Linked DNA regions of Homo sapiens. The protein of the gene in region 1 purifies or fractionates together with the protein of each later gene. This does not show direct contact. Each region holds a gene or a part of one and is shown in the gene's direction. Other genes may lie near its edges.

Region 1 (3,867 bases):
ACCTAGGGACACTCTATAGCATGGCTGGGGGACTAGGATGGGGCAAGTGAGATGCCCCAAATGTAAGGAGGCCCTGGCTCTCAAGTGCTGACTGCACTTGCAAGGCCCTGAGACTGAGCTCCCCTTAAACTCAGCACCTCAGGCACCTCAGTGGGCTCACTGTCCTTCCAGCCCTGCTCCATGTCCAAGTCCCTTGATCTGCCTGTCCCCAGGACAACCCACTTTAAGACAAGGCTCCTTCACCCTGTAGTTCCCTTGGAGCTGGGGATGGGTCTCCTGTCTCTTGGGAGAAGAAGTTTCCCAAAATAGGCTGGGTGCTGCATCCCCCTGGATGCCAGTTGTGGGTGGAACTTCTCAGACTGAGTTTTTAACAAACACTGCCAAAGACCCCCCATCCCCAGTGAGATGTGAGTGTGGTGTTTCTGGGTCAGAAGGCGGCTTTTTCAGACCCCCAGTCTGTGGAAGCCTACATTTTGTACTGTGTGTGTGGGTGTATGTGTGTGTGTGTGTATGTGAAGAAAAGCTGTTTTCTTTAACAGGGGGGTGTGGAGAGGAGGCAGCCAGAAAGGCAGCTCCAAGTTGTGGATTTCCTGGGGGCTCTTCATTTAAAGCGGCCGCACCACTTTCCACAATTCTGTTTTTTCAGAGAATGCTCTCAAGGCCTGGAGGGAGGGCATGACAGGGGTATGGGGGAGGGGGGTGGCAGAGAGGCAAGATGGTGACCCTGATCTGGAGCAGTCAAACATTCTCCCAGAGACAAAACCGGCCTGGCTCTGCCCTGCCCCGCTGCTTCATTACCTTGGCCCAGGTTCCCTAATGTCTGTGAGTGGGCCTGACACCTCCCCATCAGGATACTGAGGGCTGGCAAGGCGGCCTTCATCTCTGTTCCAGCTGGGGATGGAAGGCCAGGAGAAGGATGGGGGGACCGACTACTGGGAGGAGCAAAATGGGGAGGAGCAAAATGGGGAGGGGGCTGGGAGAGTGAATGGGTGGATTTGTGATTGGGAATGATCCAAAGGAGAGGGGGTAGAAGGAGGGGTGGAAAGGGAAGGGGACTGACCAAATACAGTGGGATGGGGCCAGGGGCTGATATAACCGAGATGGGGAAGGGGTGAGTCTGGGTCTGGGAAAAACTGATCCAAAGGCAGAAAGGGAGGGGCGAAATGGAGGAGGGTACCGTGAACAGAGTAAGGGGGCTGGGAGAGGAAATTAGAGGGGAGGCGCTGGCCAGCAGGCAAGGCCTGAGCCCTCTCCCCCGGCGGTGGTTGGGGGGGGGCCGTGTCCATATAAAGCGGGTCGGCGGCCCCTGCGGTCCCGGAGCCGCGCGGGCAGGGGCTGCCGCAGCCGATGGCGGGGCGCAGCGACATGGATCCGCCCGCCGCGTTCTCTGGCTTCCCTGCCCTGCCAGCGGTCGCGCCGTCGGGGCCGCCGCCGTCGCCGCTCGCAGGAGCCGAGCCAGGGCGGGAGCCAGAGGAGGCGGCGGCTGGCCGCGGAGAGGCGGCCCCCACGCCCGCGCCCGGCCCGGGGCGGCGGCGGCGGCGGCCCCTGCAGCGCGGGAAGCCGCCCTACTCGTACATCGCGCTCATCGCCATGGCTCTGGCGCACGCCCCGGGCCGCCGCCTCACGCTGGCCGCCATCTACCGCTTCATCACCGAACGCTTTGCCTTCTACCGCGACAGCCCGCGCAAGTGGCAGAACAGCATCCGCCACAATCTCACGCTCAACGACTGCTTCGTCAAGGTGCCCCGCGAGCCGGGCAACCCGGGCAAGGGCAACTACTGGACGCTGGACCCCGCGGCCGCAGACATGTTCGACAACGGCAGCTTCCTGCGGCGCCGCAAGCGCTTCAAGCGCGCCGAGCTGCCCGCGCACGCGGCCGCGGCGCCAGGGCCGCCGCTCCCCTTCCCCTACGCGCCCTACGCGCCCGCGCCCGGCCCCGCGCTGCTGGTGCCGCCGCCTTCTGCCGGACCGGGCCCCTCGCCGCCCGCGCGTCTGTTCAGCGTCGACAGCCTGGTGAACCTGCAGCCGGAGCTAGCGGGGCTGGGCGCCCCCGAGCCGCCCTGCTGCGCCGCGCCCGACGCCGCAGCCGCAGCCTTCCCGCCCTGCGCTGCCGCCGCCTCCCCGCCACTCTACTCGCAGGTCCCCGACCGCCTGGTACTGCCCGCGACGCGCCCCGGCCCCGGCCCGCTGCCCGCTGAGCCCCTCCTGGCCTTGGCCGGGCCGGCAGCCGCTCTCGGCCCGCTCAGCCCTGGGGAGGCCTACCTGAGGCAGCCGGGCTTCGCGTCGGGGCTGGAGCGCTACCTGTGAGCCTGCGCCGCGCGGGCAGGCACCTGTGCGACCTGTGCCCCGGACCTGCGGCGCCGCCCTCGAGCGCCCCATCTCTACCCCCCACCCTGGCTTGGAGCACACCCTGCGCCTCTCGTCGTGGCCTCCTGGACTCAAACTCCTGCTACATCCTTCTCCGTCCCCCATCCCTGGGGAGGCTCCCACCATCTCGCCACTGGACAGAAGCGTCCCCTTTGACCTGCCAGCCTCTCATTTCTTCTCCCTCCACTTGTGAGCGCCCCCAGCTTTGCGGCGCCCCCCACCCCAGCGCTGTCTGTGGGTCCCTTGCCCCGGAGCTGACTCGCCTCCAGTGAGTCCATACCCCAGGTTTCCTGGTGAGTTCCAAGCCTTTGGAAGCCAGATCTGTGATCCCAAGCCGCCTCCTCCACCGACTGTACTTCATCAACCTTCTCTCATGTTTTTCCGACACTCCTGGGTCAGACTCCTGGGTTCATGACTTACTTGCTAGCGTCCCTTCATTTTCCCACAAGTTTGCCCCCCACCTCCACTTACCTGTCTGCCCTCAGCTTCTTCCTGGGAGAGAGCCCCCCTTTCACGTAGACACACCTGGCTGCCTTCTTCACGCCCTGAGGACACTTCTTGGAGATTTCAGACAGGCAGCACCAGGGCTCCTGACTGAAAGGGGAGTTGGTGGGCCTTTAGGTCTGCCCCATCCCCTGGAAAACTTAGGACTTATTGGGTTATTATTATTTTTAATTAAAGCTGGTTTAATTAAAAAGAAAGAAACTTTTTTCTGGACTTGGTGTGCTGGCTGGTGACTTGGGGGAGTGGTCTGGGGAGACGGGTGAGCTTTATTCTAGATCTTGGGTTGCCACATGGGGTGAACCTCCTTGTGAGACATCAATCAGAAGTTCATGAAATGGGATTAGGAAGTGATTCTCCAGCAGGATTAGTGGCTAACACAATTTTGTTTTAAAAAGGAAGTGATTCAGCCATAGCTGTGCACATAGTAGGCCTAGTCAAATGCCATCTCCTGCATCTCAGCCTGGTAGAGACGAGATGGGCTGGGCATGTGTGTGTACACACTTGTGTGAATGTATCTGAGCAGCAGGTTGTCTGCTCTCTGGGATTATTCCCAGCTCCCATGGATAAAGGAGCACTGGCCGTTGATTCACTCCTCCAGTTAGTTAATGTGCTGAGCCTGTGCTAGACACTGGGGAAATATTACTGAATGAATGGGCAAAATCCCTGCCTCATGGAGGTTGTGGGCCAGTGGGAAGAGTCATTAATCCAACCATCAACGCTCAGAGAAATAAGATAAGTGCTCTACAGCCTTGCACTCAAAGTGTGGTCCACAGACCTACAACATCACCTGGGAGCTTGTTAGAAATGCAGAATCTGGCAGGACGTGCTGGCTCATGCCTGTAGTCCCAGCATTTTGGGAGGCCAAGGCAGGAGGATCGGTTGAGGCCAGGAGTTTGGGATCAGCCTGGCCTAACGTAGTGAGACCTCATTTAAGTAAATAAATAGAAATGCAGGATCTTGGCCCCACTCAGACTCACTGAATCATCAGATTCTGCA
Region 2 (3,812 bases), on another chromosome or scaffold:
ATGGCTTTTTTCCAGAATGGAATCACTAGTTCCCCTTGTACAGAGTTTGAAAAAACGGATGGAAGTACCAGACTATGAAATGGTAAATATTTTATATTAATGTGTAAAATTGACCCTTTGTAAAGACAATTTTCTGGGTAGAAGAATTTCCTTTTTGTTAAAGTGGTTCGTTTTTGTTTGTGTTCCTGTGAAGTCTGAAACAATTATTAAGAAAAGAAATGAGTGAAAAAAATACATACGTTGAAACAGAATACTGTTTTCCTGGAAAAGTCTTCCAGGAAAAACTTTTTTTTCTCAATTTTATGTATGAAGCAAAAGTCCTGTGTGTTTTTTGTAATTTTGTCTGTGGTCGGATCTCTCTTCACCAGACAAAAGAAAAGTACACAATTTCTAAAATGGTCCATTTTTTATTGATGAGTATTTATACTGCCTTCTGCCTTCCTTCTTTTCCTCCCTATTTAAAAACTTTTCCGTTTGTAAAAACCACAAGACAAAGAAAAAAGAGAGAGCTGTGACTAGCACATTTTAAATGTGTTAGCTGTTTGTCAACAGGTATCTGAATGCTATGGCCAAAGATACTTTTAGTCATAATTTATTTGTATATCATTTTGCAGTCTTTGAAGCATATATTTTCCCATTTGACCTGGTACTTGAGATGAGAAAGCTATAGCTTAAAATGTTCAAGTGACTTTTCTCAGATTTGATGCCAGGGCTAAGACTTCCAAGTCTCCTTCCTCTTAGTGTGGTCTTTCTCTTACTTCAGTAAGCTGGGTTTGCATATTTTATTTACTTATGGAATACAGTCAGACCACTGTGTTTGACTAAAGTTGAAGTATTGATTTAAGTATTGATTGAATTTATAAGAATTTGCTGGTACTCTTTAAAATAAGAGATGTCTATTTTCACACTGCTGATAAAGACATACCTGAGACTGGGCAATTTACAAAAGAGATTTAATGGACTTACAGTTCCATATGATTGGGGAGACCTCATAGTCATGGCGGAAGGTGAAAGGCAGGTCTCACATGGTGGCAGACAAGAGAGAGAGCTTGTGCAGGGAGACTTTTGTTTTTAAAACTGTGAGATCTCGTGAGACTCATTCACTATCATGAGAACAGCACAGGAAAGACCCACCCCTACAATTCAATCACCTCCCATCGGCTTCCTCCCACTACATGTGGGAATTGTGGGGGTTACAATTCAAGATGAGATTTGGATGGGGACACAGCCACACCATATCATTCCATCCTTAGCCCCTCCCAAATCTCCTGTTCTCGAATTTCAAAACCAATCCTGCCTTCCCAACAGTCCCTCAAAGTCTTAACTTATTTCAGCATTAACTCAAAAGTCCACAGTCCAACATCTCATCTGAGACAAGGCAAGTCCCTTCCACCTATGAGCCTGTAAAATCAAAAGCAAGTTAGTTACTTCCTAGATACAATGGATGTACAAGAATTGGGTAAATACAACCGTTCTAAATGGGAGGAATTGGCCCAAAGGGGCAGTGCAAGTCTGAAGTCCATCAGGGCAGTCAAATCTTAAAGCTCCAAAACGATCGTCTTTGACTCCATGTCTCACATCCAGGTCACGCTGATGCAAGAGGTGGGTTCGCATTGTCTTGGGCAGTTCTGCCCCTGTGGCTTTGCGGGATACAACCTCCCTCCTGGCTGTTTTCATGAGCTGGTGTTGAGTGTCTGCAGCTTTTCCAGGCACACAGTACAAGCTGTCAGTGGATCTACCATTCTGGGATCTGGAGGACGGACAGTGGCCCTCTTCTCACAGCTCCACTAGGCAGTGCCCCTAGGGACTCTCAGTGGGGATCCGACCCCACATTTCCCTTCCACACTGCCCTAGCAGGGGTTCTCCATGAGGGGCCTGCCCCTGCAGCAAACTTCTGCCTGGGCATCCAGGTGTTTCCATACATCTTCTGAAATCTGGGCAGAGGTTCCCAAACCTCAATTCTTGACTTCTGTGCACTCACAGGCTTGATCAACACCACAAGGAAGCTGCCAAGGCCATCCTCTGAAACCACAGCCCGAGCTCTATGTTGGCCCCTTTTAGCCATGGCTGGAATGGCTGAGACACAGGACACCAAGTCCCTAGGCTGTACACAGCACTGGGACCCTGGGCCCTGCCCATGGAACAATTTTTTCCTCCTAAATCTTCAGGCCTGTGATGGGAGGGGCTACCGCAAAGGTCTCTGACATGCCCCAGATACATTTTCCCTATTGTCTTGGGGATTAACATTTGGCTCCTCGTTACTTATGCAAATTTCTGCAGCCAGCTTGAATTTCTCCTCAAAAAATGGAATTTTCTTTTCTTTAACATTGTCAGGCTGCAAATTTTCCAAACTTTTATGCCCTGTTTCTCTCTTAAAACTGAATGCCTTGGCCAGGCACAGTGGTTCACGCCTATAATCCCAGCACTTTGGGAGGCCAAGGCTGGCGGATCATTTGAGGCCAGGAGTTCAAGACCAACCTGGCCAACATGTTGAAACCCCGTCTCTACTAAAAATACAAAACTTAGCTGGGTGTGGCAGTGCACACCTGTAATCCTAGCTACTCAGGAGGTTAAGGCAGAGAATCGCTTGAACCTGAGAGGCAAAGGCTGCAGTGAGCCGAGATGGTACCACTGCACTCCAGCTTGGGTGACAGAGCGAGACTCCATTTCAAAAAAAAAAAAAACTGGATGCCTTTAACAGCACCCATGTCACCTCTTGAATGCTTTGCTGCTTGGCAGTTTCTTCCACCAGATATGCTAAATCATCTCTCAACTTCAAAGTTCCACACATCTCTAGGGCAGGGGCAAAATGCCACCAGTCTCTTTGCTAAAATATAACAAGAGTCACCTTTGTTCCAGTTCCCAGCAAGTTCTTCATCTCCATCTGAGACCACCTCAGCCTGGATTTCATTGTCCATGTCATTATCAGCATTTTGGTCCAAGCCATTCAACAAGTCTCTAGGAAGTTCCAAACTGTCCAACATTTCCCTGCCTTCTTCTGAGCCCTCCAAACTGTTCCAACCTCTGCCAGTTCCAAAGTTGCTTCCACATTTTCAGGTATCTTTTCAACAGTGCTCCACTCTACTGGTACCAATTTACTGTATTAGTCTGTTTTCACGCTGCTGATAAAGACATACCCAAGACTGGGCAATTTACAAAAGAAAGAGATTTAATGGACTTAGTGTTCCACATGATTGGAGAGGCCTCACAATCATGGCAGAAGGTGAAAGGCACATCTCACATGGCAGCAGACAAGAAGAGAGAGCTTGTGCAGCGAGACTTGTGTTTTTAAAACCATCAGATCTCCAGCCGGGCATAGTGGCTCACATCTGTAATCCCAGCATTTTGGGAGGCCGAAGCGAGCAGATCACCTGAGATCGGGAGTTCGAGACCAGCCTGACCAGCATGGAGAAACCCCATCTCTATGAAAAACACAAAATTAGCCGGGCGTGGTGGCGCATCCCTGTAATCCCAGCTACTCGGGAGGCTGAGGCAAGAGAATCGCTTGAACCCAGGAGGTGGAGTTTGCAGTGAGCCAAGATCATGCCATTGTACTCCAGCCTGGGCAAAAAGAGTGAAACTCTGTCTCAAAAAAAGTAAATAAATAAAACTGTCAGATCTCCTGATACTCATTCGCTATCATGAGAACAGTGCAGGAAAGACCCACCCCCACAGTCACCTCCCACCAGGTTTCTCCCATGACACATGGAAATTGTGGGAGTTACAATTCAAGGTGAGATTTGGGTGGAGATACAGCCAAACCATATAATGAGCAAAGCAAAAGAATATTTTGGTGAAACCTAAGCAAATCC

Evidence for each region.
Region 2: the proteins of FOXE3 (region 1) and C5orf22 purify together in Homo sapiens (affinity purification with mass spectrometry; one large-scale study listed by BioGRID and IntAct). This does not show direct contact.

Annotation. Positions count from the first base shown.
Region 1 is NC_000001.11:47,414,969-47,418,835, forward strand, and holds FOXE3 (forkhead box protein E3), read left to right. Parts: upstream 1-1,316; 5' UTR 1,317-1,347; coding exon 1,348-2,307; 3' UTR 2,308-3,084; downstream 3,085-3,867. UniProt on the Homo sapiens protein: Transcription factor that controls lens epithelial cell growth through regulation of proliferation, apoptosis and cell cycle.
Region 2 is NC_000005.10:31,545,631-31,549,442, forward strand, and holds part of C5orf22 (UPF0489 protein C5orf22), read left to right. Parts: intron 1-15; coding exon 16-82; intron 83-2,859; coding exon of another isoform or gene 2,860-3,057; intron 3,058-3,812.